7 linked regions of the Homo sapiens genome follow. The protein of the gene in region 1 purifies or fractionates together with the protein of each later gene. This does not show direct contact. Each region holds a gene or a part of one and is shown in the gene's direction. Other genes may lie near its edges.

Region 1 (4,160 bases):
ACAGACGCCCGCCACCGTGCCCAGCTAATTTTTTGTATTTTTAGTAGAGATGAGGGTTTTACTATGTTGGCCAGGCTGGTCTCGAACTCCTGACCTCGTGATCTGGCCACCTTGGCCTCCCAAAGTGTTGGGATTACAGGCGTGAGCCACCGCGCCTGGCCCAGAAAGGAGTTTTGAGTCCAGAAAGCATCTACTCTGTGTGCTGAGGGCTGCTCCAATTCACCCACCACTCCTATCCATTTAAACTGCTGAAAGCAAAATCATTCTTGTGGCCAACCTGTCCTTAATTTGCTCAAATTGGGAGAACTTGTTTCATTGGTACTAGCTGGGGGTGAAGATGTAAGCCCAGGAAAAATCTGCTTGTCCTTCTAGCACCTGAATGCTATTCGGGGGTAGACTGTGGTGAGAAGCAAGTTATCTGCGAAAGCCCACAGCATTCTGTGAACAAATGATTTGATGATGTTTTCCAGTGAACTTATGTGGCTGTCTAACATTGTTACATCACAGCACACATTTTCCGAGAATCCTTGAGACCCAAGAGAAAGCATCTGCTCATAAAATCTTTCCACTTTGCCATATGCACTGGGTTTGGGGGTGGGGGATGAGGATGAGGAGGAGCTTCAACTCTTTACACCACTCACAGGGAACTCTTCCCGGGTGCTCTAACTCAGGAGGGTGTGTTGTCAGATCCTTTTCTATGCCTTGCAGTGTTCAGAATTTGCAAAGAATTTTACCATCTGCTCTGTGTGCTGATGTCACACAGAGCAGAGTATATAAGACTGTTCTTATCCCTCAAACTTTGCCTTTTAAGGAGAGGCACAGTTGTCCAATTTTAGGGATAAAACGTCTCCTTTTTTTTTTTCTGCTCTTGCTCTCTTGTCTTTTTCCTGGAGAAAGGCTAGAATCTGTTTCAAAGGATGGTTTTAAAGACCCTTGACTCTGGGCTTGAGGGTCCAGTTGAGCAGGCATCTTTGTTCTTTCATATGTTGGCTTCGTTTCCTGACTCTGGAGGTGCTGTGAGCGTTTAAGAACCACAGGCTTGAGCTGCAGGTGGCTGTTTGCCTCTCTGCCTTAAACAGAGCCGTTCTTGTTTTTCCTCTCCTTTCTCTCTCTCTCTTCTAACCTGCCTGTGAATGCCTGTTACTCTGTGTTGGCATTTCCAGTCACAGCCCCCACCTCTGGCCTTTCTCTCTCTCTTCTAACCTGCCTGTGAATGCCTGTTACTCTCTGTTGGCATTTCCAGTCACAGCCCCCACCTCTGGCCACTCCTTCTGTTGTTCTCTGCTGGTCATTTTTTATTTTTCCTTCTCTTTGCCTTTGTCCCTTTTTTATGTTTTTGTCAATGTTTCTCATCTCTTGCTTAAATGAGTTCTTCTTTTAATCGACATTTTCTTAGTCTGTTCAGGTTGCTATAACAAAATGTAATAAACGAGGTCACTTACAAACAACAGAAATTGATCTCTTACAGTTCTGGAGGCTGGGAAGTCCAAGATAAAAGTGTTGGGAGATTCCGTGTTGGGCGAGGGCCTGCTTTCTGGTTCACAAAAAGCAGCTTCTTGCTGTGTCCTCTCATAGTGGAAGGGAAGCACTCTAGTCTTTTCAGCTCCTTATAAGGGCACGAATCCCATCAATGAGGGCTCCATTTATGACTTAATCATCTCCCAAAGGTGCTGCATCCTAATACCGTCACATAGAGGACTGGGTTTTAGCATAGGAATTTAGGAGAGACACAACCATTCTGACTTTAGCCACCATCCAATCAGAGTGTTCCTTTTCCTTTGTTCTCAATCGCTGAGAAACAAGCCACAGCCTGTCAGGGGTAATGTGGAGGCAGTTACCTCTAACTCAGGGCAGTGCAAGAACAGGACTTTCAAGTGTGAAGGCTGATTCTGAGCCCCAGTGAGCTCTGTGACAATGGTGCTAGAAGGTACTGGTGTTCGTATCTTCTTCCAGAGGAAACTGTCCCTTGGGGCTCTGTTGAAATGCAGGCACAAAGGCACGGCGGCCTTCTTGGGTCACATGGAGAGATCAAAAAGCATCTCTTCTCTGTCAGACTCCCCTCACGGCTGTTGTTATCATTGGCAGGACTCTCCTTCAGCAACTCCAGAAGCTTCAGACTTTGGTGATGGGCAAGGTTTCTCGAACCTGCAAGTTAGCTGGCACGCAGACTGGCACCTGCCTCATGGTGAGCTTCCCAGCAGGGTAGCACAGTGACCGCCCCTGGCCTGGCCCCTGTCTCCCCTCTCCCTCCACTTGCCAAGGCCAAGTGCTGTGCTGTAGGAGAAACCACATGGAGGAACTCCACTCTGAGGCTGTTCCTCGGTGAGGCACTCTGGTGATGTGACTGGTGGGTGCAGTCCACTGGCCTGAAGAGGAGAGTCTGTGTCCCTGGGTATAAAGCTGTGCTGTCCAGAGGCTGAAGTCCACAGCCCCTCGTGTTCTCTCTCCCCTCTTTCTCTCCCACAGGTTGTGGTGCTGTGCTTTGCCGTTGCATTCGGCAGCTTCTTTCAAGGCTACGGGCCCTATCCTTCTGCCACCAAGATGGCTCTGCCCAGCCAGCATTCCCTGCAGGAGCCCTACACAGCCTCCGTGGGTAAGACAGCATGTGGCAAGTTGGGCAGGGTCTTGTTTTATTTCCCTAGAGCTGGGTTTCTCAGTCTTCCAAAAGGAATCTTCTGTGAAAGTCCAATGTTTAAAAAGTGGTAAAAGTGGAGCTTCTCCCTTTGAAGAGGCAAGTGGGGGTTCCCCTGGGGCCCCTCATCCACTGGACTGCGGCATCACTGGGAATTCTCCAGAGCTTGACAGAGCACAGTTTGCAAACTGCTGTTCTAGACTGTGTTCCCTGATCCATTCTGACATCTAATTTTTGAGTTCTGATAAGGGAGAGGGAAGCAGATGAGGGAAAGAGTCTGTCGCTTTCTGTGACGTTTTAAGAGAACTGCTGTGTTTCTGCCTCCACTGAGTGGAATTGTATGAGTAATGTAATGCAATGTATATAGTAAGGGCTTGTAAAGTGAAATTAAATAAACAGCAAGGTCAGGGCCGGGCGTGGTGGCTCACGCCTGTAACCCCAGCACTTTGGGAGGCCGAGGCGGGCAGATCACGAGGTCAGGAGATTGAGACTATCCTGGCTAACACTGTGAAACCCCATCGCCACTAAAAAATACAAAAAAATTAGCCGGGCGTGGTGGCAGGTACCTGTAGTCCCAGCTACTGGGGAGGCTGAGGCAGGAGAATATTGTGAACCTGGGAGGCGGAGTTTGCAGTGAGCCGAGATCGCACCACTGCACTCCAGCCTAGACGACAGAGCGAGACTCCATCAAAAAAAAAAAAAAAAAGAATCAGCAAGGTGAGGAGTTCAAGACCAGCCTGGCCAATATGCTGAAACCCCGTCTCTACTAAAAATACAAAAATTAGCTGGGCATGGTGGTGCATGCACCTATAGTCCCAGCTACTTGGGAGGCTGAGGCAGGAGAGTGGCGTGAACCTGGGAGGCGGAGGTTGCAGTGAGCCGAGATCGTGCCACTGCACCCCAGCCTGGGCGGCAGAGCAAGACTCCATCTCAAACAAACAAACAAAAAGAATCAGCCTGCCTTCCAAAACCTTATGCCCAAGATCTAGAGAATATGGGGACTCCGGTGTCAGATAAGAAGCGTATGGTGTTCTCACCTAGAAATAAAGGGATGGTGAGTAAGGAATACACACACAAATTCACACCTACACCTATAGGAATGAGCATGGGGTTAGGCAGTACAGTAGTCCCCCCTTATCTGAGGTTTTGTATTCTAAGCTTTCAGTTACCTGTAGCCAATGAACATACCTGCAGTTACCTTAAAATAGCTGAATACACTATAGTAAGAAACACTACCTGCAGCCAATAAAAATACCTGCAGTTATCTGAAAATAGCTGAGTACACCACCATAAGAAATTTTGAGAGAGAGAGGCCACATTCATGTAACTTTTATTAGAAGATATGGTTAGAATTGTTCTATTTTATTATTATTGTTAATTTCTTACTGGGCCTAATTTCTAAATCAAACTTTATCATAAGTACATATGTATAGGAAAAGGCATATGAACCCTACATGCTATATGCCCATATATAAACCCTGTATGGTTTTTCCCATACATATATACCTTATACCATATATATAGGGTT
Region 2 (4,865 bases), on another chromosome or scaffold:
TTCTATATACGTGTAAAATTTAAAAAGTCAATATTGCTTTAAAAATGAGTCCTAGCTAACTAGTATTGCTACAGTCAATACTAGTGCGAATGCATGTAAACAGGAATGAATTGTATAATAATAAGATAACATGTGTCTCATGGTTTATTTTCAACTTAGTCACTTGTGGTTTTACAGTTAAACTATCCTGCTGCTTTAAATTTAGAGACTTCATTTCTACTCTAATATTCCCTCTTTTAACACTCTGAGGATGTTAACTATTATTGTTAAATGTTTTAATCTTATATAACCAAGCGGGTAAGAGCGTGGACTCTAGAGCTAAACTGTTTAGGTCCTAATCCCACCTCCCCAATTATTAACTATGTGACCCTGGGTAAGAGTCCTCTCCCCTCTCTCCCTCAATTCTCTCATCTTTAAACTAGACATAATAGTCTCTATTCCTCTGATGGTTGTATTACATGGGTTAGTATTTGTAAAACCCTTACAACAGTACCTAGCACATTGTAAGTGCTATATTAGATCAGTAGGAAAGTTAGAAAAAAACTAAAAACAACTTCACTTTTTTTTTTCACTAATGTTAAAAAAAAAAAATGAAAGGGGAAAAAGCCAGCTCTGCCCTTCTTGGAAGCTCCCACTGGACCTATAATTCCACAGTCCCAACTCCAAGAGAGTTGTTGGGTGCTTGTTCATTCAATAATTTGAGTGCCTACCATATACTAAAACTCACCATGAATCAGACAAAGCCCCTGCCCTCAAAGGGCTTACACTTGGATTAGAAATCAGAACTCCACCACTTTTTTACAGATAAGAACACTGAGTTCAGAGTATGGCTCTGAGTTCAGGGGTGGCTCACACCTGTAATCCCAGCACTTTGGGAGGCCGAGGCGGGCAGATCACCTGAGATCAGGAGTTCAAGACCAGCCTGGCCAAGATGGTGAAACCCCGTGTCTACTAAAAATACAAAAATTAGCCGGGCGTGGTGGTGGACGCCTGTAATCCCAGCTACTCAGGAGGCTGAGGCAGGAAAACCGCTTGAACCGGGGAGGCAGAAGTTGCAGTGAGCCGAGATCACGCCACTGCACTCCAGCCTGGGCGACAGAGCGAGACTCCATCTCACACTCACACACACACACACACACACACACACACGAGAACACTGACTCCAGAGAAGTTATGCCTTGCTTGCTCAAGGTCACTAGAAGCTAGGTCTTCCTGCAGTTCTCAGTTCGGGTGCCATATTCTCACCTTCTATTTGAAAGACTCTACCTAGCTTTCATGACCTTTCCTTCTTTGCACGCACCACCACCCCCTGCCCAAACCAGGAGCCTAGGTTTCAGAAAAGAAAACAGTGAACCCCAAAGATAAAGTCACATGCTGGGCGTTTTGAACCTTCCCCTGCAAGAAAATGAAAGGTTATTTTTTCTTCCCGGCGTTAACCTTTCCTGTGCTGTGCCGGAAAAGTTGAGGACTTTTTACATTTTATTATTATTATTATTGTAGAGATCAGGGGTCTCACTATGACGCCCAGGCTGGTCTTGAACTCCAGGCTTCAAGCGATCCTCCCACCTCGGCCTCCCAAAGTGCTGGGATTTGAGGCGTGAGCCATCGCGTCCCGTCCGTGGATGTTTTTTTTAAAAGGTTGAGTAGCTTCACTCGGGACCGCAAAGGTGGAGTCCCCGCCCCCTGGTGCAGCAGCGAAGACAAGCGGAGCCACCTGTCAGAGGGCTGTGGGCGGGGGCGCCCGGGCCGTGAGGGCCTTGGAACCGGAGGGTGAGTGCAGTTGAGCGCACGCTCAGAGCAGACCGCTAGCAGGAGGCAGGATGTGATAGTCTAAGACCCTGGAAGCTGACGGCCAGAGGGAGGGAAGGGTGGTCACAGAGGAGAGGCAAAGCAACGGGAGGTGGAGGATCCTGGAGGTGTCTGCAAGGAGAATACACAGCAGCGAGGGGCTGCAGAAGCGGACCCAGCGACTTCTGCGCTGACGCGGGGCGGGCGGGAGAGAGGAAGAGAGGGGAGCGCGGTGGCGCTGCGAGCTGGCCCCGCCGGGGAAGGGGCTGCCATGTCCCGTGAGCGGCCCCCGGGCACCGACATTCCCCGCAACCTGAGCTTCATCGCCGCGCTAACGGAGCGCGCCTACTACCGTAGCCAGCGGCCCAGCCTCGAGGAGGAGCCGGAGGAGGAGCCAGGCGAGGGCGGGACGCGGTTCGGGGCCCGATCCCGCGCTCACGCACCGAGTCGGGGCCGCCGGGCCCGATCTGCACCAGCCGGAGGCGGCGGGGCCCGGGCGCCCCGCAGCCGTAGCCCAGACACCCGCAAGAGAGTGCGTTTCGCCGACGCACTGGGGTTGGAGCTGGCTGTCGTGCGCCGCTTCCGTCCCGGTGAGCTGCCCCGGGTGCCCCGCCACGTGCAGATCCAATTGCAGAGGGACGCCCTCCGCCACTTCGCGCCCTGCCAGCCCCGCGCCCGCGGCCTCCAGGTAGGCGGCGGGGGCACCTCCCCTCCTGGGGACCTCCTCCAGTCGGCCGCAGCGGGCTTGTGGGAGTGGATTTGCCAAAGAGCACCCATCTCCATCCCATCCCTGGGCTTGCGCCTGCCCATCCCTTTTGGGGACCCCATCTGCGAGTGGCTCTAGGCCACCCTGGCAGCTGGGCCGCACTCTGCCGGCCTGGACGCCGGGGTCGGCCTCTGATTGGTCCAGTGCCTTGCTCTGACACCGCCCCCTGTCTCTCCCCTCTCTCCGCCCTGGGCTCCCTCCTCCCGCTTCTTCTTTCCCCCAGGAGGCGCGCGCCGCCCTGGAGCCGGCCAGCGAGCCCGGCTTCGCCGCCCGCTTGCTGACGCAGCGCATCTGCCTGGAACGCGCCGAGGCGGGCCCGCTGGGCGTGGCCGGGAGCGCGCGCGTGGTGGACCTGGCCTACGAGAAGCGCGTGAGCGTGCGCTGGAGCGCCGACGGCTGGCGGAGCCAACGCGAGGCGCCAGCCGCCTACGCCGGTCCGGCCCCGCCCCCGCCGCGCGCCGACCGCTTCGCCTTCCGCCTGCCCGCGCCGCCGATTGGGGGCGCCCTGCTCTTCGCCTTGCGCTACCGTGTGACAGGTCACGAGTTCTGGGACAACAACGGCGGCCGTGACTATGCTCTACGTGGGCCCGAGCACCCGGGCAGTGGCGGAGCTCCGGAGCCGCAGGGCTGGATCCACTTTATCTGAGACGAGGCGCCTGCGGCCGACGGCGGAAAACACCAAAGGCACCCGGGGGCGGGGCGACCCGATGTGGCGGGGAGGAGTAGGAGAGACCAGGATTGGCGGGAGCGGTCCAAGGGAGTCAAGCCGGGGAGGGCGAAAAGGGTGGGGAAATCAGGGGCGTGGGGGCGTGGGGGCGTGGGGGCGGGGGGAGTGAGCGGAACCAAAGAAGCTCCGGGAGATCCGGGTGTTAAAAGCTGGTTGGATGTGAGTGGAAGGAACTCAGAATATAGGAGGAAGGAGACCCGAAACGGCACCGGAGGGATTATAAAAAAAGGAAAAGAATGGGGATGATGGTGGCCTTCCCTTCAGTGAGTGGGCTCTGGGAGAAAGGGAGGAGGTCCATCAGGCCTAGGCGGTTGAAGAAGGTTAAGAACCTTTTGGAGATGGAGGAGGTATGATGTGAAGTAGCCCACCCAGTCGAAGGCATTTACATTGCTGGCGCATTCCCTCTTCTTACCGGCCTTTTCCACCTCAGATCCCCCTGTCCTACCCATCCTAGCTTTAACTCAGCCATAATTGCCTTGCTTAATCCCAGGAACCTGGCCACTGCTCCTTGGTCCTTGGCATTATGACGGGATTCCCTTGTCACCTCTGACAGTTCCTGGCTGCGGTGTCCGCGGACTGGCTGGGGAGTGATGACAGGTAGCTATCAGAGCTCCAGCCTCCAGGCAGCTTTAGGGATTAAAACGGAGGCCAAAGCAACTCCAGACCTGTTTTTATAGCCAAATACTGAGCCTCAGGGGTTGTACACTCAGGGGCTTCCAGGAAAATGCCAGCCTTACTTTTCTGGGGTGCCTTTTAATAACCTCCAAGCACTTTGTGGACTGTTTGTCGAGGGACGGTGAATCAGAAGAATCACTATTCTGATTTCCTTTGTCTCCGAAGAGGAAGTCCCTGACTAGCTATATAACTTTGGGCGAGTTACCTCTCACTTCTTTGTGCCCCAGTGTTCTCCTTGGGAAACTGGATTTAGGTTAGATGACCTTTTAAGGCTCCTTGTATGATATTTTGTGATCTGTACATGGCAGAGTATAGATTAGGAGCCAAATTTTCCAACCTAGTGCTATGGTTCAGAATACATAGCACCCCAAGCGTCTGGCTGGAGCCGAGGATGGGTCCTCCAGTTTTTGGCACAGATGTTCCGGAGCCCAGGAAGCATCCCATAACCAACCTTCAGCCCCACCGCCACCCCCAGCGTATTCCAGAGCCGCTTCCAAACCACAGCCTATCCTCTGCTCCATTTCACTCTTGTCCTCACAGACTTTCAGCCTCCATGCTCTGAGACAACTGTGGGTAGGTACATCTCTGTTGGTGGAAATGATGCTTAAGAACCCCAAAGATTAAAGGAAACAATGTTAAGGGCTTTTGTGAGGATAAAAGATAATGGGTATATGGAATAGAAACATTTCAAATGAAGAATCAAAGCATTTCAATCAATCCACTTGGTTGTAAAAAAAAAAAAAAAAAAAAAACAAAAACAAAAAAACACCAAAGCAACTTGAATAGTAAATGGCACCAGAAGATGGCAGTCTGCTCCATAACCAGAGCAAGTGCAGTGGGAAAGCTGGACTCTCATACCCACTCACATTCATGCCTTATATAAGCCTCTCCTCCTGGTTAACCTTAACA
Region 3 (4,160 bases), on another chromosome or scaffold:
TTATATACTTGCTATCCATATTCATTGTGCTACCAGATGACATTTGAACTGTTTAATACAGAGTTAAGATTAAGCAAATCATTTGAAATTGTTACAACCATATGTGACTACAGTTTTGTTGCTGTTCTTTTTAATTCTCCTTATTTATCAACACTTGAGTGTTTCTTTTCTGTGAAACAACTTGTGAGAGGTGCTATTCCTTTCTCTTCAGAGGCATTTCTGAAAATTTACTGAGTCTTCACATATAATAGTGTTCTTGGAATTTGTATAGTTAAACAAATTTAAGGTTAGCATGAAGACAGTTATATTATGAAGTCTTTCTGACAGGAATGTCCAGTCAGGGTTCAAGACAAGCTGCACCTTATGCAAAATAACGAGGTGAGGTATATATATGGTGGGCCTCCGAAGTCATTGAACCTGGTACAAATGGGTGCTTCTCCAAAGAGGTCTTACATGACAGTAGCAATAGAAAATTATATAAACTTGAAATAAGCTTTGTCAAATATTATGCAGAAGATGTGCATTGCCATGCCTTGCAAGTAATAGGGTTTTTTTTCTTCTTTTTTGAACTGGTACTTTAATATACCTAATTACATCCATTTGAGTTAGTATTAAGTTTTAATTTCTCAGAAATAAAGTAGTGAAAATTGGTAGCAGTTTTGTTTTTCCCATTCTTGAGAATATTACAGTGATAAACAAGGCTTGATAGGTTTGTAAAATACTATTGCTATTTGAATTAAAAAATTTCACTATTGACTTTCCATATTCTATTGTAAATAAGTTGGGGAATTAGTGTGTCAAGGGGGTGTGGTAACAAATGGTAATGTAATTTTCAAATTGCTATTGCAGCACCAAACCACAGAATCAATACTCTGTCTTTATAACCACATTTGCATATAGGGATAATAATTTATTTCTTATAACTTAAGATAACTAAAATGAAGGGCCAGGCGGGGTGGCTCACACCTGTAATCCCAGCACTTTCGGAGACCGAGGCAGGCAGATCACAAGGTCAGCAGTTCGAGACCAGCCTGGCCAGTATGGTGAAACCCTATCTCTACTAAAAATACAAAAATTAGTAGGGCGTGTTGGCGGGTGCCTGTAGTCCCAGCTACTCGGGAGGCTGAGGCAGGACAATCACTTGAACTCAGGAGGTGGAGGTTGCGGTGAGCTGAGATTGCACCACTGCACTCCAGCCTGGCGACAGAGCAAGACTTTGTCTCAAAAATAAATAAATAAATAAATAAATAAATAAATAAATAAATAAATATGAGATGGCTGTTGTGAAGAGAAGGAAGTCAGTTTTTTCTCAGTATAATTGTAAACTTTAAAAAAAATTAAATCATCTTCCACTTAATCCCCGAGACTTCCCATAATGTTTAGTAATACGGACATGTGCAAAGAATTAAATCGTATAATTAAACAAAATTTTGTCAAGTTAACTTTGCTTCTCAAATAAGGAAGTTATATAATTAAACACATTTGCTTGTACCTAATGAGACGTTAGCATCAACATGACTGTATATCATTTCCAGAATTTAATTCAATTAGTTATTGGCTGAGGGATGAAATAGAGATGAAACTAAATCCTGGCCTCAAACTAGTTTTGTACCTTATTTTCCAGCAATTTGGTTTTTTTATATCTAGATTTTATCTTTACTATTTTCCCTCATCTTACCCATTCTTAGTCTCCATACACACCTATTAACTTTAATTTCCTTTTCTGAGAATTTTGAAAGCCCTATAGTTTATGATCTTTTTTCCCTCTTTGCCTTGTGAATTTTATATTTGTGAGTTTTTTCCAAATTTCTACCTGTCAGCTCACTTCTTTAGGCAAGGTGTAAGGTTTTTGAGCCCCCTTATTTCATTTTTTATTTTTTTAAGAGACAGGGATTCACCCTGTCACCCAGACTGGAGTGCAGCGACAGGATCATAGCTCACCACAGCCTTGAACTCTGAGGCTCAAGGGAGCTTCCCATCTTATGCTCCCAAGTAACTACGACTACAAACTTGTCACTAGGACTACAGGCATATGGCTAATTTTTTAATTTAGTAGAGACAGGTTCTTACTGTGTTACCCAGGCTGGTCTCCCACCTCCTGGGCGCAAGCAATCCTCCTGCCTTAGCCTGCCAAAGTGCTGGAATTACAGGCATAAGCCACTGCACCCAGCCTATTTCATAAATAGTGGATTGCACAGCATGTTTAAATCATGTTTGCTTTACTAAAGTTTTTATCTACAACTCCCTATAACAACTTCATCTGCAAAAGAAATTAGGTAGAGAAAATAAACTACATTTGTTTTTATTCTTGACCATTCTCGAGAGGGAATAACTTGATATTGTCTGATCTAAGCGTTTAAAATAGTGAATTTGACTTGTCACAACATTAGTTTGATGAAAGACAAATATAAATTACTTTTGTGGGTTAGTTGTACAATTAACTTTGCTAACCTGTCCTATAAGGCAGAGGTCCCCAACCCTTAGGAGCTGGGCCACACAGCAGGAGGTGTGCAGTGGACCGGTGAACATCACCACCTGAGCTCTGCCTCCTGTCAGATCAGCGGTGGCATTAGATTCTCATAGGATTGCAAACCTTACTGTGAACTGCGCATGCAAGGGATCTGGGTTGCGTGCTTCTTATGAGAATCTAATGCCTGATGATCTGAGGTAGAACAGTTTCATCCCATAACCATCCTCCTCACCGCCTGCACCATCTGGGGAAAAATTATTTTCCACCAAACAGGTCCCTGGTGCCAAAAAGGTTGGGGACTGCTGCTCTTAGGACAGAAAGAAAGAAGTTCCATAACTAGAGTAAAATATCACCTTACAGTATGAGGTAGCTTAACTGTGGATTTACTTTGTTACCTTGCCCCTCAGTGGGGAGAGAAGCTCTGGAATTTAAAAAAAAAAAAAAAAAAAGTCTTACTGTTGTGAAGTCAAAATTCTTTGTACGTGTATGCAACATGTATACAAAACAATAGCTAAAGTGAGCATTAGTCTGTCTTTTTTTTTTTTTTTTTTTTTTTTTTGAGATGAAGTCTTGCTCTGTCACCCAGGCTGGAGTGCAGTGGCGCAATCTCGGCCTACTGCAACCTCCACCTCCCAGGTTCAAGTGATTCTCCTTCCTCAGCCCCCCCAAGTAGCTGGGACTATAGTCACGAGCCATCATGCCAGCTAATTTTTGTATTTTTAGTAGAGACAGGATTTTGCCATATTGGCCAGGGTGGTCTTGAACTCCCAACCTCAAGTGATCTGCCCACCTCAGCCTCCCAAAGTGCTGGGATTACAGGCGTGAGCCACCATGCCCAGCCTAGGCCTTCATTTTAGTGAGCCCTTATTTTATTTTATTTTATTTTATTTTATTTTATTTTATTTTATTTTATTTTATTTTATTTTATTTTACTTAGAGTCTCACTCTGTCGCCCAGGGTGGAGTGCAGTGGTGCAGTCTCGGCTCACTGCAACCTCCGCCTTCTGAGCTCAAGCAATTCTCCTGCCTTAGCCTCCCTAGTAGCTAGGATTACAGGCATGAGCCACCGCACCCAGTGGGTTCTCATTTTAAAAACGTTCTTGGGAAAGATGCTTCCTTCATACAGAACTACTGAGTATCTGTTTGTTTTTTACTGGGAACAACCCAAATGTCCTTCGCTGCGTGAATTATTGAACTGTGATACATCCATACCATGGAATACTATGCTGCCTTAAAAAAGGAACAAACTGCAGTCACACCTTGTTTAACATTAGGGATAAATTCTGAGAAATGTGTCATTAGAGAGTTTTGTTGTGCCAACATCATGGAGTGTGCTTACACAAAACTACATGGTATATAGCCTTATAGATATCTAAGTTATATGATATGTATGGCCTGTTGCTCCTGGGCTACAAACCTATACAGTATGCTACTATACTAAATACTATAGACAATTCTAACACCATGGTTAAGTATCTGTATATGTAAATAAAGACAAGGTATGGTAAAAATAAGGTGTAAAATATTTTTAAATGGTATACCTAAGGCACTTACCATGAATGTGGCTTGCAGCACTGGAAATTATGGTAGGTGAGCCAGTGAGTGAATGCAAAGGCCTCAGACATAATTGTACACCATTGTAAACTTTATAAATGCTGTATACTTGGGTTCCACTAAATTTATAAAATATT
Region 4 (4,160 bases), on another chromosome or scaffold:
GAAGAGGTCAGTGCATCTTACCTTTGGCTGTGTGAGAATGCATTTCATCTTTATTCTTTCTGAGATCTTGTTCCCTACTCTCTCCTTTATTCTTTCTTTATCCCTCTTGTTTTCCTTTCTGTAGGGGCTGTTTGTCTTACATATTTTCTAAGTATTCTGAATGTATTGCTTTCTTTATCTAAATATATTCATTCTGTCCAGAGTTAAACGCAGTGATTCTCATCCTTTTTGAAGGTTTTGGTTTGATTTCATGCTTTCTCTCTTCTCTCAGCACTAGTGGGTGGGTGTGTACGTGTATGATTGTTAAAAGTAAATGAATTTAAGTTAATCTGGGGACAGCCCAGAGATGCTCTGTAGCATCACATAACCAGGGCTAAGACCAACCTCTCCTCCACCTTGTAAAGTCAATCCAGCAGCAGTTATTAGTATAATGAGTTATAAGCCAGTAAGAGCCTATTCATGTTCAGGCTTGGATTTGAAAGTTGAAACATTATTTACAGATTGAGTTCTGTGATTTGTTCCCAATTTAAATTTAAAACGATAGTTGGGGCCGGGCGCGGTGGCTCACGCCTGTAATCCCAGCACTTTGGGAGGCCGAGGCGGGTGGATCACGAGGTCAGGAGATCGAGACCATCCTGGCTAACACGGTGAAACCCCGTCTCTACTAAAAATACAAAAAATTAGCCGGGCGAGGTGGCGGGCGCCTGTAGTCCCGGCTACTCGGGAGGCTGAGGCAGGAGAATGGCGTGAACCCCAGGGGGCGGAGCCTGCAGTGAGCCGAGATTGCGCCACTGCACTCCAGCGTGGGCGACAGAGCGAGACTCCGTCTCAAAAAAAAAAAAAAACGATAGTTGGAATGTAAGTTATAACAAACTCCTGAATTGGCAGTTTTGTTTTATTGAAATGCAGTTGAGTGTTTTTTTCACGTGCCTATATTTGAAGAGTCTACAGCTGCCTGCTGTCTTGTGGCTAAATATAATGTCATATAAATGGAACATTTTCCCCTACTTGTGGCTTACTCACCATACTACTTTCCACATTTTTGTTGCTCAGTTTCTAAGATGATTGGCAATTATACTTTTTTAAAAATCTGTGGTACAAAAAGTGTAAAATGTAAAAATGTTTCTTGCTATACTCCTCATGAAGTCTCCCTTGCATTTGCGAATGTGGGTGAAGTGCCCATGCTTTGGGGTCGTCCACTTAGGACTGTGGCAATATTTTAGAGAACTGTTTCTTTCCTGATGCTTTGGAGCACTGTGAAGTCAGTGGAGGAAGAAGCATTAGTCAGAAAATTGAAGAAAATTAAGGAAAAGTAGATGTTCATAATGAGAAAAAAAAAACACCCTTGTATTAGGGATTTATTCCAAAAAGTAGTTTTGAGACCTAAGTGTATCTGTCTGTGTACCAAATTGCACTGCGTACAGTGTTTTGGGATGCGGAATGAGGCTTCTGAAACACTGGAAACCCCTCTCCCTTCAAGGGGTTAGCATTCAGGTTGGCATGCCATTTAGCGGAAGAGTGAACTTCATAGGTGGGGAGGCAAGATTTTCATCAGTTCTGATGCTGGTACTTAATCATGTTGACTTTACCATAGAATGTAGAACTTTCCATTTCCCAAGCATTTGAGTCATTAAGGTTTTTCTCTGAATTACAGAAGTGAACAACATGGACAGTTCACCCTAAAAGGGTTATTGGTGGTTGACATTGGTACAGCAAGGGCAGAGCTGGGAAAAGTTAACCAAGCACACATTTGCTTATGTTGGTGCCTTCCAACTCTTGGAAAAAAAAAAAAAAATGCTGGGTTAAACCATATGAAATTGCCAATATTCGATTATCTTTGATCTAAAATAAATGGAAATTTCATGTGGCCCCAATTAATAGGTTAGTGGTTTGGGTTTTAAATGTACACATTCAAATATAAGATAATTATGCTACTTTTTTAGATCAGGCTAAATGAAGATACAATCCAAGATGTTGTTCAGGCAGCTGACCTGCTGCTACTGACGGACCTTAAAACCCTGTGCTGTGAGTTTTTGGAAGGCTGCATTGCTGCTGAGAACTGTATTGGTATCCGTGACTTTGCACTACATTACTGCCTCCATCACGTTCATTACCTTGCCACAGAATACCTGGAGACTCATTTCCGAGACGTCAGCAGCACGGAAGAATTCTTAGAGCTGAGTCCTCAAAAGCTTAAAGAAGTGATTTCTCTTGAGAAGTTAAACGTTGGCAATGAAAGATATGTCTTTGAAGCAGTAATTCGATGGATAGCACATGATACAGAAATAAGAAAGGTACCTGTCATTTATAACATGGTCAAATTTGCCTTTTTATTTCTTTTTAATTCAAATTTTAGTTGTTTTATTTTTCTTCTTCATCATGAAAGACTTACGATGCAGCAATCTAAAAGATACCTGTAAAACATGTTCCCCTATATCATGAAAGCAGTTGGTTTTTCAGACCAGTCTGCAAAAGCCCATGCCACACAATATATCAGTGAAAATATTAGCCCTTGTAAGGAGCGTAATATCCTTTGTATGTTGTTTTTAATGGGAAAATGCATTTCAAGCTTAAGCTGGAGATTATAGAAACGCAGTATCCCCACCCTTGCTCTCAGCATCCTGACCTACTATATCACTAGGCTAACCTCTGCCAGGCCTCAGGTGCCTGCAGCAGGCAGGGGGGTGGCACGTGGATCGATGGCAGGGGTGGAGGGGCATGGGCCTGAGGAGCTTCAGGTGTGATTGACACCACGCAGGAGAAAGCAGGCAGGCTCTGGAGTTTGTGTGGCAGTGCAGTTTCAAGAGGGAAGGTTCTGGGAGTGAAGGTCTTAAAGAATATCAGCCTCTAGATCCAAATTGTGAATACCTTGGAGGAAGGAGCAAAATCACAGGACTTGAGGGTTTTGAGGGGGCAGAGAGTCTCAGTCTGTCTCCCAGGCTGAAGGGCAGTAGCCAGAGTGGCACGATCATAGCTCACTGCAGTCCCAACCTTCCTGGCTGAAGTGATCTTCCCACCTCAGCCTCCGAGTAGCTAGGACCACAGGCGTGTGCCACCATGCCTAGCTAATTGTTTGATTTTTGTAGAGACAGGGTCTCGCTGTGCTGCCCAGGCTGGTCTCAAACTCCTGTGCTCAAGCAATCCTCCCACTCTAGCTTCCCAAAGTGCTGGGATTACAAGTGTGAACCACCATGCCCAGCCAGGACTTCATTTTTAAGTCTGATTATTATAAATAAGACACTAGCTCCAATTACTGTTTTCAAAATAAGAAATATATTAGGTGTTAGAGAGTGGATCTCACAATGTATAATTTTACTGTTAATTGTTCTTGTAAGTTAAAACTGGACTGTTAAATTTTGATGATTATCTTATAATTTTTTGAATTCTGTAAGCCCATAAGTATGCATGTTTAGAAACCATATTTGTAGTATTGGTTTTAATTGGGACAGGTAAGGACAGGTAGTGTTCTGCTTTCCATGTTAGTTGGGGAAATTGGTAAAGGAGATAGAAAAATGAGAAAAATTTCCTATGTGCTCCCACTCACCAAGACCACAGTGGGACATGCTGCTCCTTGCCAGCTTCCGTCCTGCCCTCTTCTTGCCTTAAAGCAAGGGAGATGCTTAAGGTTGGCTGGTTGCTGGGAAAACGAGGCAGTTCTTTGTCCTTTGGTCAGTTTAAACTTCATGCTGTAAAGACAGTTGATTTTTAAAACTCACAGTTTTATTTTACATTTATAAAATACTTTCGTCAGTTCAAATTTAGTGATTGAGCAGTAAAAGTGTAAATTCATATTAGTCGTCTTAGATATTTTTGAACAGTAATTACTGCAAAAATGATTATATAGTACTCAGGTTTTTTTTTAAACTTTGGCTTTTGTATATTTTTCTTGTATTATTAATGTTGATGTCTAAGTTTACCATATTGTATTGAGCTATTACTGTATATAATATTTGTATAAACATGATTTAACTCATGGCACATCCAAATGTGTGAAATAAAGCAAATTATAGCTGGTTCTTTTCCTGTCTTTTCCTATTGAAATGGGAATCCTTTAAGGTGTAAAGGAAGCTGCTTGAAACTTTTACAGTGATACCTCAAATAAACTGATGATTTTTAAAAATTAAACTTTTACTTATCAAGACTCTGGGAAGTAGACAGTT
Region 5 (4,160 bases), on another chromosome or scaffold:
TGAAGACAGTAAGTAGTTCTTTGGCTCTGAAAATGGTGCAGGCTGAAGTCCTCTGGAGGCATCTTCATTTGTACTTGTGAACCTCACAGGGAGGTATTTTAATCTGTTTTAGTTAGAGCAACTCTGCAGCCTGGGTTTCTTAGGACCGTACCAATTTCCCATGTCCTTCTTCATCCGTGAGTGCTAACATTTGGTTTTTAAAATATTGTGCAAATGAGATCTTTCAACACTTAGAAATTCCCCCTTGAGAACAGGCATAATACATGATCTGGTTACTAAGTGGTTGCTTTGGAATTTTCATTAATAATCCAACAGTCCTCATGTTGGCTGAGACTCTGAGGAAGACTCTAGGTCTCTGAGAAAATGTCAGAAATTGCTTGACTGCTGAGGCTTGATTGTGGGATGTAAAAACCAGGTACCAACAAAGGAATATGATACAGCTCCCAAAGTACATGAATTGTTACTGAGAGATTGGTGAACATTACTGGAGCACTGAGAACTGCCTCTTAAGGTCAGGAAAACTGTTTTCCATTCAACCCAACCTGCAGGAGGAACCAAGCCAGAGCAGCAGCTGAGAGCTGAAAGAGTGAGACAAGAGGATGAACCAAAAAGACAATGATAATATTACTTTTTTTTTTCATTTCATGCATATTTCCCATGCAGCTGCTGCCTTCCTTTGAGATTGGTGCATGGACGGAAGACGATGTGGTAAGCTCTTTGTATTCATGCCTTATTTGACTTGAGCAGGTATTTCATAAATTTTTCCCTAAGTTTTTAGGGGAAGAGATTGGGCCTTAGGAAAGTCTAACTAGGAGAGGTTGACAAATTCTTTTCTCACTCTGTCTCCCAGGCTGGAGTGCAGTGGTGCGATCTCAGCTCACTGCAACCTCCACCTCCTGAGGTTCAAGCGATTCTCCTGCCTCAGCCTCCTGAGTAGCTAAGACTATAGGTTCCCACCAGCATGCCTGGCTAATTTTTGTATTTTTAGTAGAGATGGCGTTTCACCATGTTGGCCAGGCTGGTCTCGAACTCCTGACCTCAAGTGACGTGCCCGCCTCAGCCTCCCAAAGTGCTGGGATTATAGGTGTGAGCCACTGTGCCTGGCCTTTTTTTCTGTTTTTAATGCAATAATGATTGAAAATAAAGCCTCAAGAGTAAAGCAAGTATCTCTGCAAATCTTCTAAGTGGGTTCTACCTTCCTAAATTACTCTGAAACTATTCCAGAATACAATAACAAATACCCATGAGGAAATTAAAGTGGCAGCTCGGGAAAACAAATGAACATACTTGAAAAAAAAGTGATATTAAATCTTTTTACAAGAACAGGGATGGCCTCGAGCCATGGTAGAGGAGGATCTGGTCAAGGCAGTGCTGGGCTGGTACACCGCTGAACCGGCTTTCCTTCCACCTCAGGCCTGTTTGAAAGTGAGGCATCATATTTGCCAGCCTTATTCTGGCCTCCCAAGTGGGAATAGACACAAGCACGCCCAGACATTCTCTGTAGCTTTAGCCAGAGAAGCCCTATGTTTTTGAGAGGCTGCACTCAGACTGTTGAAGTCCAAAAGAAGTCCTGCACTCTGCATTCTTGATAGAAACCCTGAGAAACAATCCAACTTAGTCTGTTACATCACCATATCTATTTTTTTAGTGACAAAACAGGTATGAAAATTCCTGATGTGAAAACTCAGAGACTAGGTTGGGCACGGTGGCCTGTAATCCCAGCACTTTGGGAGGCTGAGGCAGGAGGATCACTTGAGGTCAGGAGTTCGAGACCAGCCTGGCCAACATGGTGAAACCCCATCTCTACTAAAAATACAAAAATCAGCCAGGTGTGGTGGCACATGCCTATAATCCCAGCTACTTGGGAGACTGAGGCAAGAGAATCGCTTGAATATGGAAGGTGGAGGTTGCAGTGAGCTGAGATCACACCACTGTATTCCAGCCTGGGCAACAGAGCAAGGCTTCATCTCAAAAAAAAAATTTTTTTTAAGTTCTATAAAACTCAGGGACTTATGCTATCCAGGTCTATTTAACAAGCTCAGGGTATCACTAAATGAAAATGAAAAAAACAAAAGATGTAATGCCAGCCTTAGTGGGTTTGGGCTCCAGCCCAGGGAACAGACCAGGTGCCACAAAGTGCAGACTAGCTACTGGAAACTCCTCAAAAGATCTGTTTACCTAGCTCAACCTGGTTTTGGGCCCAGGCATTTCCCTCTCTGCCCTTTGTATTCTTTTGAAGTGCACCTGCTTTCAACATTAGCTAACCTCTTTGGCTTCCGTAGGGTAAGGAAACTTGGCACCAGTTGCCACTATTTCTTCCCATTCACTGAGCCCCAGTGAGTCTCACTTTCCTGCCAGCCTTGCTTAACAAGGAAAGAGGACTCAGGGTCTCCTTTATTCACAAGCCTGGATATCATCTCTTTATCCCTAGCTGCAGAGTTTCCCCTGTCATTTGAAAAGAAATTTTTGAAAAATCACTGAGTTCTAACAGCTATTTTTAGTCTTTGCTCTGAGGCTGAGTGGCTTCCAGGCCACTTAAATAAAATTCCAGAGTTGAGGGCTCCCCAGAGAATCACAGGGACTGAGTCTGGCCTCCCATCCTTCTCTCCTCACCAAGGTACTGTGAGAGGCCACCAGTAAACCCAGACCCTGTGATATACAGGGACTAAGGGTCACTGGGTCCAATCTCCTCATTCTACATAGGAAGCTCCACACTTTGACTTGGCTGGGGCCACGTGGCTACTTCATGACCTGGCCTAGAACAAAAGATTCCTTCTGTCTGTTGCTCTGTCCACTGCTGTGTGGTCCCTGGAACTCATACAATTCCTGAGTAAACTGGTGCCCCTCAGCAATCCAGGGGACCACTGGCACATAAATGGAAAAATCACTATAAGTAAGAACCCTCTTGAAAGGATTTAAAAATATCTCCCAAAGAAGGAGGAAAACCAAGGGGCTTTTAACTGTCCAAGACCCCCGAAGAGAGGGATATCTCCCATTTGAAAGCTTGAGGTTTTAAAACTACAAAGAGAAAGTCTTCTATTTTACCTTTGTGGTTGAGCCAGGAATTAAAGTTATTTTGATCTATTGAAAACTCTATGTTTACTGTGAAGACTGGCCACTGACCATGTGTGAATCTTCAAAACCGTATGTGTCCTCTCTTTCACAGTATTGTTGGGTTCAGCAGCTCGTCAGAAAAGGCAAGTGGAATAAGTTACCTTCTTCAATCATGGAGTTAACTTTGTTTTGGATGTGATTTCATCTAATTTTATTCTGCTTTCTAATCACTTCCTTCAGGTGACTCTTCAGCAGAGATGAGTGTATATGCAAGCTTGTTTAAAGAAAACAACATTACAGGGAAGCGGCTGCTGCTGCTGGAGGAAGAAGACCTGAAAGACATGGGCATTGTCTCCAAGGGGCATATCATTCACTTCAAGGTACCTGAGAAAGGGACAACATTCCATCAGCAAACCCTTTTTTTGTTTGTTTGGTTTTTTTTGAGGCAGAGTCTTGCTCTGTTGCCCAGGCTGGAGTGCAAAGGCACAATCTTGGCTCGTTGCACCCTCCGCCTCCTGGGTTCAAGTGATTCTCCTGCCTCAGCCTCCCAAGTAGCTGGGATTACAGAAGCGTGCCACCACACCCAGCTAATTTTTGTATTTTTAGTAGAGATGGGGCTTCACCATGTTTTCCAGGCTGGTCTCCAACTCCTGACCTCAAATGATCCACCTGCCTCAGCCTCCCAAAGTGCTGGGATTACAGGCGTGAGCCACCAGGCCTGGCCTCCATCAACAAATCTTTATTGAGCACCTACTATGCAGCAGATCACGTGTTAGGGGCTGCAGATGGAAACAGTGCTATGCTGGTCATTACTGTGCTGAAATGCTTACACAAGTTGATAATCAGCAGCTGCCCCCAGGCACCCCTATTCCTTCCTCATAATCCAAACAGCAAAAAGGTGCATACATGGTATAGTAGGACTCACAGGGAGATAACCTGAATATCACCCCCCTGCCCTCAGGAAGTCTCTAATCTGGTGGAGAAAACAGATACTGCCTATGCGATAATGGTAAATGACGGCTGTAAGAAATACCACAAAGGCAGTGTGGTGCCTGGAAAACAGCCATCCACCCAGAATAGCAGGAGGTGACTCAGTTTAATTCTAG
Region 6 (4,160 bases), on another chromosome or scaffold:
GCCATTCTGCGTGTGTTCCCCAGCTGGGCAGGGCTGGAAGCCTTACGTATGAAGCATGGAGAAGCAGCCATTGTCCCCACTATGGGCAGAGGGGGGACCCGGCTGGCCCCTTGGGTCAGACTGGAGCCAACACCGCCAGCCACCCCCTCTGGCCTGCTGGCAATGCCACAGGTGCCCAAGAAGATGGAGGATCCCTGTGCCAGGAGCCAACCTGGTCTTCCCGAGGGTCAGTGCCCCAGTGAAGACAGAAGCGAGAGAATAAAGTTCCCTGTAGGTCCTCTGTCACCTTTGGGTTGTGTTTTTCAATTGTTGACATTTCAGAGGGGACCCTCCAGAAGCCCAGCCGGCTTCCCCCAAGGACTCCCCCTTCGCTGGGAGTGGATTTCCACACGTGCCTTTGATTTCGGACAGATTGGGCCTCACAGCCACCGATTCAGCTGCCAGGGTCCCTGGACTGGGGGTTGGTGTTTTCTATAGAGGAGGAAAGGCCCTCCCTCACCCTGCTCCCCACCCAGGCAGGGCAGCATGGGACCCAGTGTCTCAGTGCCTTCAAAACCCACCCCCACCCCTACCCTACCCCACCACACCCCATCCCAGAGGCCTTGCCTGGGCAACCCTAAGCCCCTGTCCCTCGCCATACACTGATGCCTGGCAGCTAGAGCAAATGGCTCGTGTTCTTTGTCGAAGGCCTGTGGTGAGATTGTTTTGTTTCCTTTTGTTTTGTGAGTTTGTTTAAAATTGAAATTAGTTATTTTCTTCTGCTGGACAGTATTAAATAGAGCAGGATGTTGAGTTAATCTGCTAGATTGCAGTACTAATGGTAGTGGTTTAGTGTCTTCATGTTAATATTATTTGTACTTATTTGAACAATAATGATAAAGAAGTGGTTCATTATTTTTTAATTAATGCACTTTAAATAAGGTAGAATGGAAAAAACCCAGAGAGCAAAGTGCATTACTTAAAGATGCAGTATATACTTTTCTCATTTTTAAACAGCACATATTTATTAAGAGAAAAAAAGTAATTTATGACTATTTAAAATAAAATTTAAAAGTAGAGTGACTGTCAGGTAAAGAACCTTCAATGTAGCTATCTTCCAGGGGGAGGGCCCTGCAGCCTCGCTCCTCAGATGTCTGCACTGAGCCAGTTCAGTCACTAGTGCGCCAGCCAGGCCAGGAGGGAGTGCAGAGCATGTCTGCCAAGCACAGAGCATCTCAGTTGGACTGGACCACAGTGCTCCCGAGAGCCTGCCTTTCCTGCCCTTCCCCACCACCTGCACTGCCCCCCACATTCTCCCAGCCCCCCCCAAGGACCCCCTCTCCTTGACCCCCAGTGCTGTAAGTAATAGAGTCATTAAAATGCAGGACTGAAAGAGACCTCAGAGGTCTCTATCCCATCCCTTCCTGTTACTGCGGCCCAAGGACAGGAAACAACTTTTCCAAAATCCCACAGCTAGTTAATGACAGATCTCCCCACTACATTAATCCCGTGCTCCTCCTCACTGCCATTATAGTTTATTGTGTGGTCATGTTTACATTGTGACATCCAGCCCCAAGGATGGCTGGGAGTTGCTCAGGCATCCAGGAAAAGTGGGGAATGCTGCCATCTGGTGACAGCATGTAGATTTGGGCAGTGAACAGGGATTGCCATGCCCCAGTCTTCGCACCTCGCCCCCTCACCCCCTAACTCACAGCACAAACCCTGCAAACCCAAAGAGAATATTAATACTTGAAGCAAGAAGGGTGCATGCCAGTCCTTCTCCGACATGGCCAGGGGGTACCAGGCCTTGTGCGCCTGGCCTCCTAGCCCTAGCCAGGGCGAGAGGGCCTTTCCCTTGAGCTACTGAGCTGCTTTGTGATGCTGAAGGATACTGCCGGCAGCAGGCAGAGGAGGGAGGGGGCCTAGGGCTCTGACCCATCTGGAGGAAAACCAGATCGGACTAAAAAAGGAAAAAGAAAAACAAAATCTCCGCAGTGTCCAAACCTAGTTTCCCATGAGTTGCGACTGAAAATGTGAAACGACACTGTATTGCTGTATACTGCAACTTTAACCATAATGAGCCCTTCTGAGGTCATTATTGAGGTTCATATAATGCCCGAAGATGCAGCATTTGGTGCTTTGTTTTCCTTTCCGTTTCAAGACCTTTTTCTTTTATTGCAAGGGGAAAAAAATGTCATCTCCCCCCACCTCATCCCTCTTTGTGACAGCAGACCTGGCTGTGTTGCCCCTCTCCTCCTCACTATTCTCACCAGGCCATGGGACTTTGGGGGCAGTGAGAGAGAGCTGGAAAGGGGCAACCCTGAGCAGCAGGTGTGCCCCATGCCCTGTGGGTTTCCCCTATGTCCAATGACTGTAGACGGGCTGTCTTGCCAGGCCTCAGCCCCGTCTACCCTAAGCCTGGCCCCAAAGGTTTCTCTTTCTTCCTCCTTGATTTTCCATCTTGACGAAGGCATTATATAGAATCATTTTAATCACTTTCAGATGTTAGAGCAGCGTATTTTACAGGCATTTATATCCATTGCTTTCCTCAGCAAGGCATGTTACTACTTTTATCATCTAAGGAAAAAAGACAAGGGAATTCCAGTCAGGCATTATTTTCCTATTACTAGTGTTTGCAGAATAGGTGTAGGACTATTTAAGTTTAGACCTTGGTTTGGTAGTTCTTGTTTTTAATAAGGGGAAAAAGATAAAATAACCCCTATTTTTCCTGTTATTGTATTTAACTAATATATTATTTCTTTAAGGTTACTCACTTCCCCTACCCCTCCAAATACCTTGCATTCTCAATCAAAAATGGAAACAATCTGAGAGACAGGAAAAGTGCAATATTACCAAGATGGATGCCAGGGCTCATTGGGGACAATGGAGGGAATACCAGTGGCGCTCAGAGAGCAAGAGGCAGGGAGCGGGGTGCTGAAGGAATCCTAGCTGTGGAACAGGTGGGTGGGTTGGTGGAGTTTGATCTTGTGGCGTTCTCCTCTCCCCCTTCTTTGGGAAGATGATAGGGGTCCCTGCCAGATCCACCCAGAAGAAAGGGATTCAGGCATGGGGCCCTTGACCTCTAGGCCCCAGTCCCTGGAGCAGAGGCAGGCCCTCGGGAGCTGTTCCTTGTTTTGATTTCTGTTGTGGTGCAGCCAGCTGCTCAGAGAGACCTGGCCTAAAAATGACTCCCAGCAGCCCTCTCTCACCCCAGTGTCCTGATATTTGGGCTGTGATCCTTCTGGTGTATGTTTGAATCTTTCTAAAACTGGGTGCCCTCAGTTCAGTTTCTAGGCAGGAAGCCTAGAAGTCACCAGATCTTTTTGGGGGATGTGAGAACCTTGAGCCGCGCACACCCTGGTGAGACACCAATTCCCACAAGCCTGCAGCAGGGCCTGGGGCTGAGCCTGGGCTGCCCATTCATCTCAGCGACTTCAGCCTGAGAAGTGAGCCCTGCCTGGGCTCCACACCCAGAGAGTCCATACAAATTCTGCTCCGGGAAGAGTCGGGGGGTCTATTCAAGTTTCTCTGCAGACAAAACTTCCCACAACAGGTACCAATCTGGCCTCCTTCCTCAGCACCGGTAGAGAAAGCAACAGAATGGGAAGTTTCCTCTGGGTTGGAGCCTCAGAGCTCTGCCCCTCAAGGTGACAGGGACGTCCCTGTGGCTTGTTCCCTCCACCTCCAGTACTGTATGCTTGCTACTTCAACCCCCTATTTGGTGAATTTCTGCACAGACACAGATCTCTGTGCCTGGAATGGGACTGTGCCCTGTGCGGGTCTCTCCCTTGGCGTATATCCATCTAGATATTTAGTCTTTGAGAATCTCAAAGCAGAGCTCTCTGGGAAGAGAACTGTCCACATTGCTAAATAATTAAGATTCCCTCACTTTTTTGAGGGCCATGTGTTGTGAGAGAGAGAGAGAGAGAGAGAGTGTGTGTGTGTGTGTGTGTGTGTGTGTGTCTGTGTATGCAAGTGTTGGTAACTTCCCACTTGAACTAAATAACATGGGGTTAGAGAAAAAAAAATACCAGGCAAGCTGTCTCCATTGAACAAGTCCTTGGCAATGGGCAGGTCCCAAGGGACTCACAGCTTCTGGCAGCAAGTGTGTCATTCACACACATCATTCTGGCTGGAGAGTGCAATGTGTCATTTTTTTTTCTTTTTGTAATTATTTTATT
Region 7 (4,136 bases), on another chromosome or scaffold:
AGTGTCTCAGTCTGTGCCAGCAGCACCACTGTCTGTTATGGACAAAGCACAGAAGCGGGGATGCGAGGGGAGGTAGAGGGACCGCCAGCCTGTCAATGCTTAACTGGCTGTTGCTGACAGATACAGAAGGATTTGTGGGGTACAGAGGAGTTCTGCTTTAAGTCACCTAACTTACTTGAAAGGTCTCCCAAGCAGCCAGTTTCTCTTGATAGTGAATGGGTTGGGCAAGCATACTGCGCTTACCTGATTGTTTTCATCCTGGTTGTGTTACCTGCCTTCTGGCAGGCTACATCATTGTTCCCAGTCGTTATTTTATTTGTGTTAAGACTGTTTGTTGGCCAGGCGCAGTGGTTCACGCCTGTAATGCCAGCACTGGGAGGCCGAGGCAGGTGGATCACGAGGTCAGGAGATCGAGACCATCCTGGCTATCATGGTGAAACCCCATCTCTACTAAAAATAAAAATAAAAAAATTAGCCGGGCATGGTGGCGGGGGCCTGTAGTCCCAGCTACTCAGGAGGCTGAGGCAGGAGAATGGCATGAACCTGGGAGGCGGAGCTTGCAGTGAGCTGAGATTGCGCCACTGCACTCCAGCCTGGGCGACAGAGCGAGACTCCATTTCAAGAAAAATTAAAAAACTGTTTGTTGCCTGCTTGTTTTAATGTTCTGGCTTGAGGCAGCGAGCCCTTGACTATGCCACATTGCCAGGATTTTGCAGGTTAGATTGTACTACAGCACTGCCTTTGGCTTGCCAGACTCTGGAGTCCCCACATTTTCATCCTGTTCTCAGGAAAACACTTTGACCCACTTGAAGCTCTGAGCTACTGCTTCACAGCTTCCTGGGGTCAGTCTCCAGCCAAAACCATAGATATCCCAACTGCAGCCAAACCACGGCTCTGGGCGAAGGAACGATTAGGTTTACTCTAGGTTTCCACACCCTGATGCTCCTGCCTTTACTTTGACACCTCTGACTGCCAGGTTTTCACAGACCTGTTGACAGTGACTCAAGATCTGGAATGTAATGGATGGTTTGGCAACAGTGTTTGCTTGAGCAGTTTAAAATCTGGCCAGGGAGACTCAATGTGAGCAAGAAAATGATAGAATACCAAGTTTTCTGGAGGTCAGAGGGAGCTGAGTTGAGTGTTACCGAGAATGCTGTGGGGTTTGAGATGAGAAAAATAGCTTGCTAATTTAAAAGACGGATTATTTTTCCCTAAAGACCTTGACTTATGTAAATGTATATTATCCATAATTTTAAAAATCCACTTATGGCTGGGCACAGAAGCTCACACCTGTAATCCCAGCACTTTGGGAGGCTGAGGCAGGAGGATCAGTTGAGTCCAGGAGTTCGAGACCAGCCTGGGCAACATAGTGAAACCCTGTATCTACAAAACATAGAAAAACTAGTTGGGTGTGGTGGTGTGTACCTGTAGTTCCAGCTACTAGGGAGGTAGGAAGATCACCTGAGCCCATGGAGATTGAGGCTGTGGTGAGCTGTGAAGGCACCACAGCACTCTGGCCTGGGCAAGAGTGGGACTCTCTCAAAAAAAAAAAAAAAAAAAAATCCACATATCCAGCCTTCCAAGTCAGTCTTTAATAATGTGCACGGGCCAGGCACAGTGGCTCACACCCGTAATCCCAACACTTTGGAATATTAGGGTGGGAGCATCACTTGAGGCCAGGAATTTGAGACCAGCCTGGGCAACATAGTGAGACTGCCCCCCCCATCTCTACAAAAAATAAAAATCAAAAATAATACTGTGGGCAAACTTTACTTAGATTTTATTCAGAGTAGTGCCTGTTTATTTTTCATCTGTGCTACCTGTGCCGGCATTCCATATGCATTTGATTTAGTCTTTAAAGTACCCCGGTAAAATAGGTCTTTTGTCTGCATTTTTCAGATGGGAAGACTGAGGTTTTGTTTATTTATTTTTATTTATTTATTTTTTGAGACGGAGTCTCGCTCTGTTGCCTAGGCTGGAGTGCGATGGCACAATCTTGGCTCACTACAACCTCCGCTTCCTGGGTTCAAGCGATTCTCCTGCCTCAGCCTCCTGAGTAGCTAGGATTACAGGCGCCCACAACCGCACCCGGCTAATTTTTTGTATCTTTAGTAGAGACAGGGTTTCACTATGTTGTCCAAGCTGGTTTCGAATTCCTGACCTCAGGTGATCCACCCGCCTCTGCCTCCCAAAATGTTGGGATTACAGGCGTGAGCCACCACGCCCAGCCTATTTATTTATTTTTTTAGAATCAAGATCTTGCTATGTTGCCCAGGCTGAACTCGAACTCCTGGGCTCAAGCAATCCTGCCTCCCAAGCCAAGCAGCTGGTACTGCAAGCATGTGCCACCGTGCCTGGCTCCTGAAGACTGAGGTTGGTTTAGATTAATGAGTTGCCCAAATTCAGACAGTTCTTAAGTGGCAAAGTTAGGATTCCAACCCAGGTCAACATAACTAAAGCCCAAACCCCATCTCACCCCTCTAGGCCATCAAGTATTGGCTGGGTGCGGTGGTTTATGTCTGTAATCCCAGCACTTTGGGAGGCGGAGGCGGGAGGACTGTTTGAGCTCAGGAGTTTGAGACCAGCCTGGGCAACATAACAAGACCCTGTCTCTACAAAAATATATAAATTAGCCGGGTGTACTGGCTCACACCTGTAGCTACTTGGGAGGCTGAGGTGGGAGGATCGCTTGAGCCTGGGAGGTCAAGGCTGCGGTGACCTGTGATTGCACCACCAGGAGACCCTGTCTTAAAAATGTATATATAAAAATAAAAAGAACATCAGACATCACCATCACCTCGCTTAGAATCCATGGGGCCTTCTCCTCAAATTCAATCTTCCCAGGCATTTCATGAACTTGCGTCTAGTTTCTGTTCCCTCTCAAATTGCCCAGGCTGTCCTGTGAGTGACAGCAGCTATTTCGTGGGCCTCCTCTGGAATCATGAGAAGTCACCCAAACAATCTCAGTTTTCTAGCTCACTCCGTCTTGACATTTCTACACTGTCATCCTTGGTTTTCTTGGAAATTAATTTGCTTTTCTTCATTGTCTTTCTTTGGAGCTGCTTTCCTTTTGTTGGTTACTATTTTATTTTTAGCTTCTCACACCATACCGACATATGTTGGTTATTCTTTTAGACATGTTTTTTGTTGTTGTTGTCACCTGGAACTTTTGTATCTTGAATAAATTTGGGGATCAAATACATTTTTTCTCCACCAGTCTTATTTATACCTTTCTATATTCAGAGCTTCAAATTTGGTTTGGTTTGAAATTGTTCTCCCCCCAACCTTTTTTTTTTTTTTTTTGAGATGGAGTTTTGCTCTTGTCGCCCAGGCTAGAGTGCAGTGGCATGATCTCCGCTCGCTGCAACCTCCGCCTCCCGGGTTCAAGCGATTCTCCGGCCTCAGCTTCCCAAGTAGCTGGGATTACAGGCATGTGCCACCATGCCCGACCAATATTTGTATTTTTAGTAGAGATGGGGTTTTGGCATGTTAGCCAGGCTGGTCTTGAACTCCTGACCTCAAGTGATCCGCCCACCTCAGCCTCCCAAAGTATTGGGATTACAGGCATGAGCCACCATGCCTGGCCTTTTTTTTTTTTTTTTTTTTTTAACTTTTATTTATTTTCGAGAAGGAATCTCACTCTGTCGCCCAGGCTGGAGTACAGTGGTGCCATCACAGCTTATTACAGCCTCAACCTCCCAGGCTCAAGTGATCCTCCCACCTCAGCTTCCTGAGCAGCTGAGACTGCAGGTGCATGCCACCATGCCCAGCTAATTTTTTGTAGTTTTCTAGAGGCAGGGTTTTGTCATGCTGCCCAGGGTGATCTGGAACTTCGGAGCTCAAGCAATCCATCCATGTCTGCCTCCCAAAATGCTGGGATTATAGGCGTGAGCCAGTCACCTTTTCCCTTTTATTTTATTTTATTAATTTATTTTTATTTTATTTTTGAGACAGAGCCTTGCTCTGTCGCCAGGCTGGAGTGCAGTGGTGTAATCTCGGCTGACTGCAACCTCTGCCTCCCAGGTTCAAGCGATTCTTCTGCCTCAGCCTCCCGAGTAGCTGGGATTACAGGCGCGTGCCACCATGTCCGGCTAATTTTTGTATTTTTAGTAGAGGCGGGGTTTTACCGTGTTGAC

The links.
Region 2: the proteins of CREB3L2 (region 1) and PPP1R3E purify together in Homo sapiens (co-immunoprecipitation; one large-scale study listed by IntAct). This does not show direct contact.
Region 3: the proteins of CREB3L2 (region 1) and R3HDM1 purify together in Homo sapiens (co-immunoprecipitation; one large-scale study listed by IntAct). This does not show direct contact.
Region 4: the proteins of CREB3L2 (region 1) and GAN purify together in Homo sapiens (co-immunoprecipitation; one large-scale study listed by IntAct). This does not show direct contact.
Region 5: the proteins of CREB3L2 (region 1) and MAP3K20 purify together in Homo sapiens (co-immunoprecipitation; one large-scale study listed by IntAct). This does not show direct contact.
Region 6: the proteins of CREB3L2 (region 1) and SH3PXD2A purify together in Homo sapiens (co-immunoprecipitation; one large-scale study listed by IntAct). This does not show direct contact.
Region 7: the proteins of CREB3L2 (region 1) and KIF1C purify together in Homo sapiens (co-immunoprecipitation; one large-scale study listed by IntAct). This does not show direct contact.

The regions. Positions count from the first base shown.
Region 1 is NC_000007.14:137,883,428-137,887,587, reverse strand, and holds part of CREB3L2 (cyclic AMP-responsive element-binding protein 3-like protein 2), read left to right. Parts: intron 1-2,085; coding exon 2,086-2,185; intron 2,186-2,466; coding exon 2,467-2,593; intron 2,594-4,160. UniProt on the Homo sapiens protein: Transcription factor involved in unfolded protein response (UPR).
Region 2 is NC_000014.9:23,299,771-23,304,635, reverse strand, and holds the start of PPP1R3E (protein phosphatase 1 regulatory subunit 3E), read left to right. Parts: upstream 1-1,776; 5' UTR 1,777-2,059; coding exon 2,060-2,476; intron 2,477-2,777; coding exon 2,778-3,200; 3' UTR 3,201-3,338; intron 3,339-3,771; 3' UTR 3,772-3,878; intron 3,879-4,865. UniProt on the Homo sapiens protein: Acts as a glycogen-targeting subunit for PP1. PP1 is involved in glycogen metabolism and contributes to the activation of glycogen synthase leading to an increase in glycogen synthesis.
Region 3 is NC_000002.12:135,534,275-135,538,434, forward strand, and holds part of R3HDM1 (R3H domain-containing protein 1), read left to right. Parts: intron 1-4,160.
Region 4 is NC_000016.10:81,352,462-81,356,621, forward strand, and holds part of GAN (gigaxonin), read left to right. Parts: intron 1-1,943; coding exon 1,944-2,294; intron 2,295-4,160. UniProt on the Homo sapiens protein: Probable cytoskeletal component that directly or indirectly plays an important role in neurofilament architecture.
Region 5 is NC_000002.12:173,229,026-173,233,185, forward strand, and holds part of MAP3K20 (mitogen-activated protein kinase kinase kinase 20), read left to right. Parts: intron 1-663; coding exon 664-708; intron 709-3,166; coding exon 3,167-3,197; intron 3,198-3,294; coding exon 3,295-3,434; intron 3,435-4,160. UniProt on the Homo sapiens protein: Stress-activated component of a protein kinase signal transduction cascade that promotes programmed cell death in response to various stress, such as ribosomal stress, osmotic shock and ionizing radiation.
Region 6 is NC_000010.11:103,596,417-103,600,576, reverse strand, and holds part of SH3PXD2A (SH3 and PX domain-containing protein 2A), read left to right. Parts: 3' UTR 1-4,160. UniProt on the Homo sapiens protein: Adapter protein involved in invadopodia and podosome formation, extracellular matrix degradation and invasiveness of some cancer cells. Binds matrix metalloproteinases (ADAMs), NADPH oxidases (NOXs) and phosphoinositides.
Region 7 is NC_000017.11:5,025,200-5,029,335, forward strand, and holds the end of KIF1C (kinesin-like protein KIF1C), read left to right. Parts: 3' UTR 1-3,202; downstream 3,203-4,136. UniProt on the Homo sapiens protein: Motor required for the retrograde transport of Golgi vesicles to the endoplasmic reticulum. Has a microtubule plus end-directed motility.